Linked DNA regions of Homo sapiens. The protein of the gene in region 1 interacts with the protein of each later gene in a pairwise test. Each region holds a gene or a part of one and is shown on either strand. Other genes may lie near its edges.

What was found.
Region 2: the proteins of DRC7 (region 1) and MBIP interact in binary tests that used the Homo sapiens proteins (3 or more experiments, as listed by UniProt).

What each region holds. Positions count from the first base shown.
Region 1 is NC_000016.10:57,693,392-57,697,778, forward strand, and holds the start of DRC7 (dynein regulatory complex subunit 7), read left to right. Parts: upstream 1-1,414; 5' UTR 1,415-1,461; intron 1,462-3,011; exon of another isoform or gene 3,012-3,072; 5' UTR 3,073-3,203; intron 3,204-4,387. UniProt on the Homo sapiens protein: Component of the nexin-dynein regulatory complex (N-DRC) a key regulator of ciliary/flagellar motility which maintains the alignment and integrity of the distal axoneme and regulates microtubule sliding in motile axonemes.
Region 2 is NC_000014.9:36,303,503-36,307,319, forward strand, and holds part of MBIP (MAP3K12-binding inhibitory protein 1), read right to left. Parts: intron 1-3,817. UniProt on the Homo sapiens protein: Inhibits the MAP3K12 activity to induce the activation of the JNK/SAPK pathway. Component of the ATAC complex, a complex with histone acetyltransferase activity on histones H3 and H4.

The DNA.
Region 1 (4,387 bases):
CACAGCCCTTCATGAAAATATAAGAACCAGAAGGATATATTTGTTCAGTCTCATATTAAACATATATTAAAAACACCAGCATGCCAAACAATACTCATTTTGGAAAAAAAAAATACACATCAGAATGGTTACTTTATAGAGGTGGGAAATGAAAGTGGGTATGAAGAGAAAAAGGAATGAATAAATATGTAAAAGGAATGAAGTGTTGCATAGGGTTGAAAAAGGACAATGAAGCCTATGCTGCATCCCACTAGCATAACGCATCACCTGTTTTCCTTTCTCCTCCCTCCTCCCTTCCTGCCTTCATCCCAGCCAGTTCCCCACAGAGGTAATTACGAGTTGCTTAGCACCAAGTCTGAAATACTACACACACTGTCTCGTGAGCTCTCCACAGTGCAATTGATCCTTTAGCACCAAGTCTGAAATACTACACACACTGTCTCGTGAGCTCTCCACAGTGCAATTGATCCTTTACAGCTTATTTTTATGGCTGCATGATATTCCAGCTGGGAGGGGGAACATCATTCTCTATTCATGAGAATTGAGGCAATTCCTAAGTTTCTAGCAGTAACACTAACTGTGCAAACTTGTCAGCACAGTGACAGTCTGGATTCCCTCCTGGCAGCCCTATCCCCTGACCAAAAAAGGCCCATGCACCCCTCCCTCCAAAAATAAAACAGTGAAGATTATATTTTAGGACTGTATTGGTAAAAACACAGATATAATTCAGGGCAGATTCACACTTATATAGTCATTATTATTCTCATTTTTTTCTTCTGAATTTAAAAGAAATTAAACATTTTCATGAGCCACTAGCCTAATGGATAGGTTTTCCCCGTACTTCGAGGTAATGTTCTACATCACAGCTCCGGCCTGGACTAGAACCCAGGACTCAGTCAAGGCAGCCTGGTTCTGTCCACCGCAGCTGGCAGCTACTCCAGGCCCCACACTGGTTTCTGTCTGTCTCGATCAAGGCCACATTCGGCATGCCGTGGGGCAGGGGCTGTGCTGTGCTGGTAAATGTTTAACAACTGGCTGGCTCAGAGGAAAAGCCCTGGTCTTGGCGTTTGCTAATTTTTGTGGTGTAAATAACCCCATGGCCAATTTTTTTTTTTTTTTTTTTTAGAGAGGTTCTCACTATATATTGCCCAGGCTGGTTTTGAACTCATGGGCTCAAAGGATTCTCCCGCCCTGGCTTCCCAAAGTGCTGGGATTACAAGTGTGAGCCACCGTGCCCAGCCCTCTTAATTTTTAATAATGGCTGTGTTTCACAAAAATTTTGGAAAGTTTAACAACTATCAAGTTGATGCCCCACTATACCAGTGCACCGCTGGCAGAAGGACCCATGAAACCTGGGAAGACTACATTTCCCAGAAGCCTCCTCTCCCAGGACCGGCGTTCAGCTTCCCAGGTTGTTACCATGGAGATGGCTAACAGCTAGAGCAGGCTGTCCTCGGAGGGGTGAGGAGGGAGCAAGGGACTTGGGGTGGCTGGACCCTGTCTGGCAGGGAAAGGGTGAGGCTGGTGGCCCCCTTCTGCCTGGGGGCCTCCAGCCCTGATCTTTCTGGGGAAGTTGTTGGTGGGGTGTGTGTGCGTGTTTATGTGTGTTGGGAGGAGGAAGTTGCTGGTGGAGAGGGGGTGCAGGGAAGGGCCGGTGGGTTGGGGCAGAATCTAAGGAACCTTGAGATAAGACTGCCTTCCCCACACTGGGCTATAGCTGAAGAGGCCACCTGTGTAGGGAATAAAGTGCTGTGGGTTCTTCTCCCCAGCTCTGCCTCTGATGGTGTTCTGGGACTGACACGTCGGCTTCCTCTTCAGCCTACTTCTTTCCTTGCCCACCACTCCCCCACCCCCACCATCCCTTCTAGCACTTCCCCATCTCATATCTCTTCCAGCCTGAGACACACAGGTTTCACAACCAGAAATACAGGGGTTCAAATCCCAGACCTGCTACTTACTGGCTGTACCTTAAGCAGTGCACTTAACTTCTCTGGGCCCCAATCTTCTCATCTGCAAAGTGGGTGTCCTCAGTGTCTGCCTCATAGAGTCAGTAGAGGATAAGTGAGATGATCTCCGTACAACCCTCAGCACAGGTCTGACACACAGTAGGCATTCAGCAAACTGTAAATGCCTTGTAATGGTGATGACTGCCCTTCCTGGGCTCATTGTCTCTGGGACCAAGAGGCCAACAAATGGATCTGATCACTGAGAAGTGCTGCTTGGCTAGAGGTTCTCCCCTGAGGATCTGGGGTCCTGAATGGTGTTGGGCTACCTAGGCCTTGGGTGGCTTCCAGCCAGATGAGCATTCGTCCCCTCCTGAGTCCCAGAGCACAGAATGTCAGAATTGGACAGAAAATATCTGCCCTCCCTTCCTACTATAAAGAGAAACTAAGGCACAGAAAGGCGCAGACAGTGACCCAAGGGTCCAGCAGGAGCTACTGGCAAAGCCAGGGTTTCCCCAACCAGGCTCAGTCGTGGCTGGTGGCCAGGGACTCACCTCCCTAGGAGGCCGAGGTGGCCCATGTGGGTGTGGAGTTGGAAATTGGGGCCAGCCTTTATCTGCTGCTCCCTTCTGCCCTCTTGCTCCTGGCTTCACCCAGGGAAGTGGGGGATGATTAGAAAATCAAGGGGATTCTGCTTTTTTTCCTTACTACTCGCCCCCTTTGTCCTGTGGGTTTCGTTTGTTTTCCTCATCTCTGGACCCCCATTTGCCGTAAGGAAAACAGATGTTCGAGGACAGAAATGGAAAGACCCCAGCTGGGAGGCTGCAGATAGTGCATCAGCTGGGATGGCGTTGGGTGGTGTGGAACAGGGACCCCCATAGAAGCTGAGGTTTCTTATATAAGGAAAGGCTAGAGGTGGCACTCCAGGCCTCTGTGGCACTGCTGGGGACCCCAGCTCCCCCATCTCTCGGCCCTGCCGTCCATAGCAGGCAGCTTTAGCCCTCATGTGTGGCCACCTCATGGTCTCGCCTTGGCTGCCCCACCTCCCACTTTATCTCCACATTCCAGGTGGGAGGAGGAGAAGGGCAGAGGGCTCCCCAATCACTTCTGCCCACATCTCATTGGCCAGAACCGGGTCACATCGCAGGGCCACCTCTAGCTGCAAGAGAATCTGGGAAGCTGAGCAATTCAAACCAGGCACACTGCTGCCCCCCACACAACTGGGGTTCTGCCGTATAGAAGAGGAGACTGGATCTTTGGGTAGGTGACTAGCAGTCCCCGCTCAGTGTGGCTCTGCTCTGTGACCACAGGACATATGGTGAGCACATGTGGCGTCTCTGCGTGGATCACAGAATGAAGCCTGTTCTCTGGGCCAACACAGGCCTTGGCCAAGAGAGAGTAGGCTGTGTTACCCCCACCCCCCACTCCCTGTTTGTATGCCCTGGTGCAGGCACCTTCACTCTCTGTGCCTCGGTTCCCAGTTTGATCAGGTGAGATATCATTCACCTGCCATCCTCATTTTTGGGTGGGTTGTAGATCATATCACCTTACCGTTAGGATTTTCTTTAAACCAATCTATTTATTTATTATTTATTTGAGACAGAGTCTCACTCTGTCACCCAGGCTAGAGTGCAGTGGTGCGATCTCAACTTACTGCAACCTCTGCCTCCCAGGTTCAAGTGATTCTCCTGCCTCAGACTCCTGAGTAGCTGGGATTACAGGCGTGTGCCACCACGCCTGGCTAATTTTTGTATTTTTAGTAGAGACGGGGTTTCGCCATATTGGCCAGGCTGGTCTCGAACTTCTGACCTCAAGTGATCCACCTGCCTCGGCCTCCCAAAGTGCTGGGATCACAGGCATGAGCCACCGCACCCAGCCAATTCATTTATTTAAATAAGAAACTTGACAATACTATAGTAATCCCCACAGCATTCACAGTACTTGTCATTGATAACTGTCAGCTGGCACAATGGCTCATGCCTGTAATCCCAGCACTTTGGGAGGCCAAAGCAGGAAGATCGCTTGAGGCCAGGAGTTTGAGCCTGGGCAACATAGCCAGACCCTGTCTCTACCAAAAAAAAAAAATAGCCAGGTGTGGTGGTGTGCACCTGTGGTCTCAGCTACTGGGGAGGCTGAGGTGGGAGGATTGCTTGAGCCTGGGAGTTTGAAGCTGCGGTGAGCCATGATCGTGCTGCTGCACTCCAAGCCTGAGTGACAGAGCAAGACCCTGTCTCAAAAAAATAAAAAATTTAAAAAAAAAGATAACTGTCAAATATACTAAAAGCAAATCGACACGTGCCTTTCCCTGTCCTGTCCTGAGGATGGCTTCCAACCGGAGGCCTGCTTTGTCTTTGTTGTAAAGGAATATTTGCCAGGATTAGAAAGGTGTTACAGATGGGGTAGCACCAAACAGAGACTTTCTCCATGTTTGAAAGGAAGTCAAA
Region 2 (3,817 bases), on another chromosome or scaffold:
ATGTTTCTGTATTGAATACTGTAGGCAAGTGTAACACAATGGTATATGTGTATCTAAACACGTCTCAACATAGAAAAGATACAGTAAAAATACCATACTATAATTTTATGGGATCACTGTAATATATGCAGTTGACTGTTGACTGAAACATCCTTATGCAGAGCATGACTGTCATACACACGTTCACGCACATGCACACACACATATGAATCCAGGGAACCAGTGCTCTAAGGAAACTCAAGGGTAAGGAGGCCTCTTCCATGACTGGCTTGCTTTCTTTCAGTTGTAAAAGGCAACTGATTCTATGCGTGCAGTATCTAAAATGTTTTTCTTCCCTTCTAGTCCCAGAGCCCTGATTCAGACCTTCATTTCTCTCTGGCTTGGATAATGACATGTTTCCTAAACTAGTTTCCTTGACTCCAATTTCTCTCCAACTCAGACTTCATAATGCCACCAGACAGGGACCTAAATTACAAGTTTCTCTCTTTCTCTAAAACTTAATTGTGCTCCAATGATACTAGAAGTGCAAACTGGTTAGTGTGACCTTCAAGGCCCTCTGAAATATGTTTACAATCTAATTTTCTAGCTGAATCCAGTTGTTCACTCATGCTTCAGACCCACCACACGTTCACACGCACATGGCCTGTGTACATGATGTTGACCTGATTTTCAGCATTCCCCTCCCCCGATACTTCCCTTAAGAACCAGGAGTTACTGTTACAGACTAAAAATTACTCTCAGTCAGTGCTTTGAACAAAGTTAACACACCTTCAAAGTCCAATAATGAGCTATCAGCCAAGTCCTATCCATTCATTTGCACATCTACTCGATATTGACTACATTCTGTGTCTCAAAGATGAACAAGACATAGTTCCTGCCCTTGAGAGTTTCAAAATATAAAGTGAAAAACATGTATAAACATATGAGTGATAAATGCTATAAACTAAACAATATACTTGTAAAAGCATGTTGGTACTTACTGTTTTCAAGTATCATAATTTAAAATCAGTAAGTCTTTGGAAATACTCTAAGATCGTTCTTTTAAATGGACTGTTAAGGCCATGCCCTTAAACTTTTGAAAACATTACATTTAAAGCTTTCCATGGCTAATGTGAAGAATAAAGATCTTTAGAACTCTTATATCAAAATGTCCAACAAGTATTATTAACTTTTGTCATAAATCCTGTTTTATACACATATAACTTATTTTGGAGTTTTATGTCTGGTCGTAAAATGAGAACTTTACATAATCTGATTACATTTTATAAAACAAATACAAATGACATCTTTTTTCCCCATAAATATTTGTTTTTCTATGCTACGCTTCAATGTTACCCATGATAATCAATCTCTATCCAATTGTAAGAAGCTCCCCCATGTTTAGAATTCATCTACATGTGAATCTGAATAAACACATTTCAATGAAAATCTTTTCAGAGTTCAGGAGTTCCAACAAAAGTTCAATCCTTAATAAACTGAATGGGCTCAACTTTCCTTTCCTATCTTTAGAAGCTATAGGACTGTGCTACATATGTAGTTTCTTCTGTATACTTTTGAGGGATAAATATGTAAAATTATGCAATTACCATGCATGTACTCCCAGCATGATGGTGAGGGTGATGAATAATGTACTATGTCCTCTGTAAGGTATGTGCTCAACTTCTCCTGTTTGCAAGGACACTCTTAGAGCTGACTGTATTCCAAGTGAGGTTCCTAAAGATGGCTCATTCATCCTATTATAGAAGGGTGATGAGTATGAAATCTTCTTTCCCATAGGGCTTGTGTCATGTATGTTCACAGGCCTAAAGGACAGAATGAGTCTGAATGTTTAAACTTTCCAGTGTTTTGTTCTTCCTTGTAGCTCACTACTAATTTAATGTGTCACTTACAACACTAATCCAGAAGAACTGCAGTTCTTCTAAAAGATATATAGTTTTTTTTTTTAACATATTTGGAAATACTTTTAAAAATCACCTGTTTTATCACAGGTTGCCACCATCCATCCTTTTCTGAATGCTTAATACATATATGCCAATCCTCTGTTTACATTTACAAATGCTTCCTGCCCCTGAAATTAGGCAGTCACCAAGCTTCAGACTTCAGGCCTCAGACAATCTGTGTTCCTATCCATCAATGGACTCTCACACTACACAGACTCTCCCAATTGTCCCAAGTGTAAGTGCCGTATCTCAAAAAGCTTACCTGATGTTTTTACCTTCATAACCTCCTCTGCCTTCAAATTCACATTTCCCACAAAAGTATCTCTCTCTCTAGATTTTCTTATTTCTATCAATGATGGTATCATTTTTCCAACCAGAAACTGGACTCTATCCTTGTTCTCTGTCTCTTTCCACATCCAATCATCAGTATTTGTCCATTTTTTTTCCTACTTGCATTAATCTTTTCCATTCTCACTCATGTCCCTATTTTAGGAACTAACTTCACATCTAAGCTAGCATAATACTATCTCCTTATCCTTAGTTTCTCTCGTTTGTCTCCCACAACTGTATTAGATAAATCTTTCTAAATATCGTGTTCACAAATCACTTCTCTGCTCAAATGCTTTCAGTAGATTCCCCCTGCTGCCTGCCTGGAAAATAGATTTTAAACTTCTGAGCATAGCACTTAAGGTCCTAACAATCTGGCTACTTCTACCTCTTTACCCACTCTATCCTATCTGTAACAGATCAAAACAAAACAAAAAGATTATGATGTGGAGGGCTTTTTTTTTTGTTAAACACATCTATAAGTTTTGTTTTTTTTGTTTTTGAGACCGAGTTTTGCTCTTGTTGCCCAGGCTGGAGTGCAATGGCGTGATCTTGGCTCATCGCAACCTAAGCCTCCTGGGTTCAAGCGATCCTCCTGCCTCAGCCTCCCAAGTAGCTGGGATTATAGGCATGCGCCACCATGCCCAGCTTATTTTTTTTATTTTTTATTTTTTTGTATTTTTAGTAGAGATGGGGTTTCTCCATGTTGGTCAGGCTGGTCTTGAACTCCCGACCTCTGGTGATCCGCCCACCTTGGCCTCCCAAAGTGCTGGGATTACAGGCGTGAGCCACTGCATCCGGCCTCTGTTAAGTTTTTATAAATCAGAATCAGAGAGAAGAGAGGAATGATGCTGCAGCAAGTTCTCATTGGAGGCATCTGATTTTACCATACTCTATTGTAAGATCGGTTCTATCGTTAATAAGAATTATATTAACAAGGTATGAAATTGAACTAGAAAAATAACTTTCCTAGGTTATTGCCTTCTTTAATGAAGGCAGTTAGAATGGGAAAAACTTATGGTAGACTACTGTAGGAAAAGTCATTAAAAATCTTTATGAAGTCTCCTAGGAAGACATTCAAAGAATAATCCTAAAAGTGAAAAGACCTTTGTAATTATGTAGTACAACCAATACATTTTCTAAAATTAGACATCTTGAAGATCAGAGGAATAGAGTGACTTTTCCACGTTTATACAGCTACTTTGTAGTTATAAAACTAAATAAATGCCAATGAGGTTTTTACCATGTGCTAAGCAGTATGCTAAGTGTTTGATCAGCATTATCTCATTTGATCTTTGCTTCAGCCCTTAGTATTTTCATAAACCTCATTTTACATTTGAGAGTAGTAAATCACTAAAACTCTTCTCTGAAATTTTGTCATTTAGGACTTGCTGCTCCCTTTTGTTACGTGACCTGCCTTCTTCTTCTGGAAATACTTCTTTTCTGTAACTCACTCTTATACTCAATCTATAACTTTGGAAGATTGCTGTCATACCTAAAATAAATTTTAAATATATTTTCACCACTAACTTATATGATCCATGCTAAAA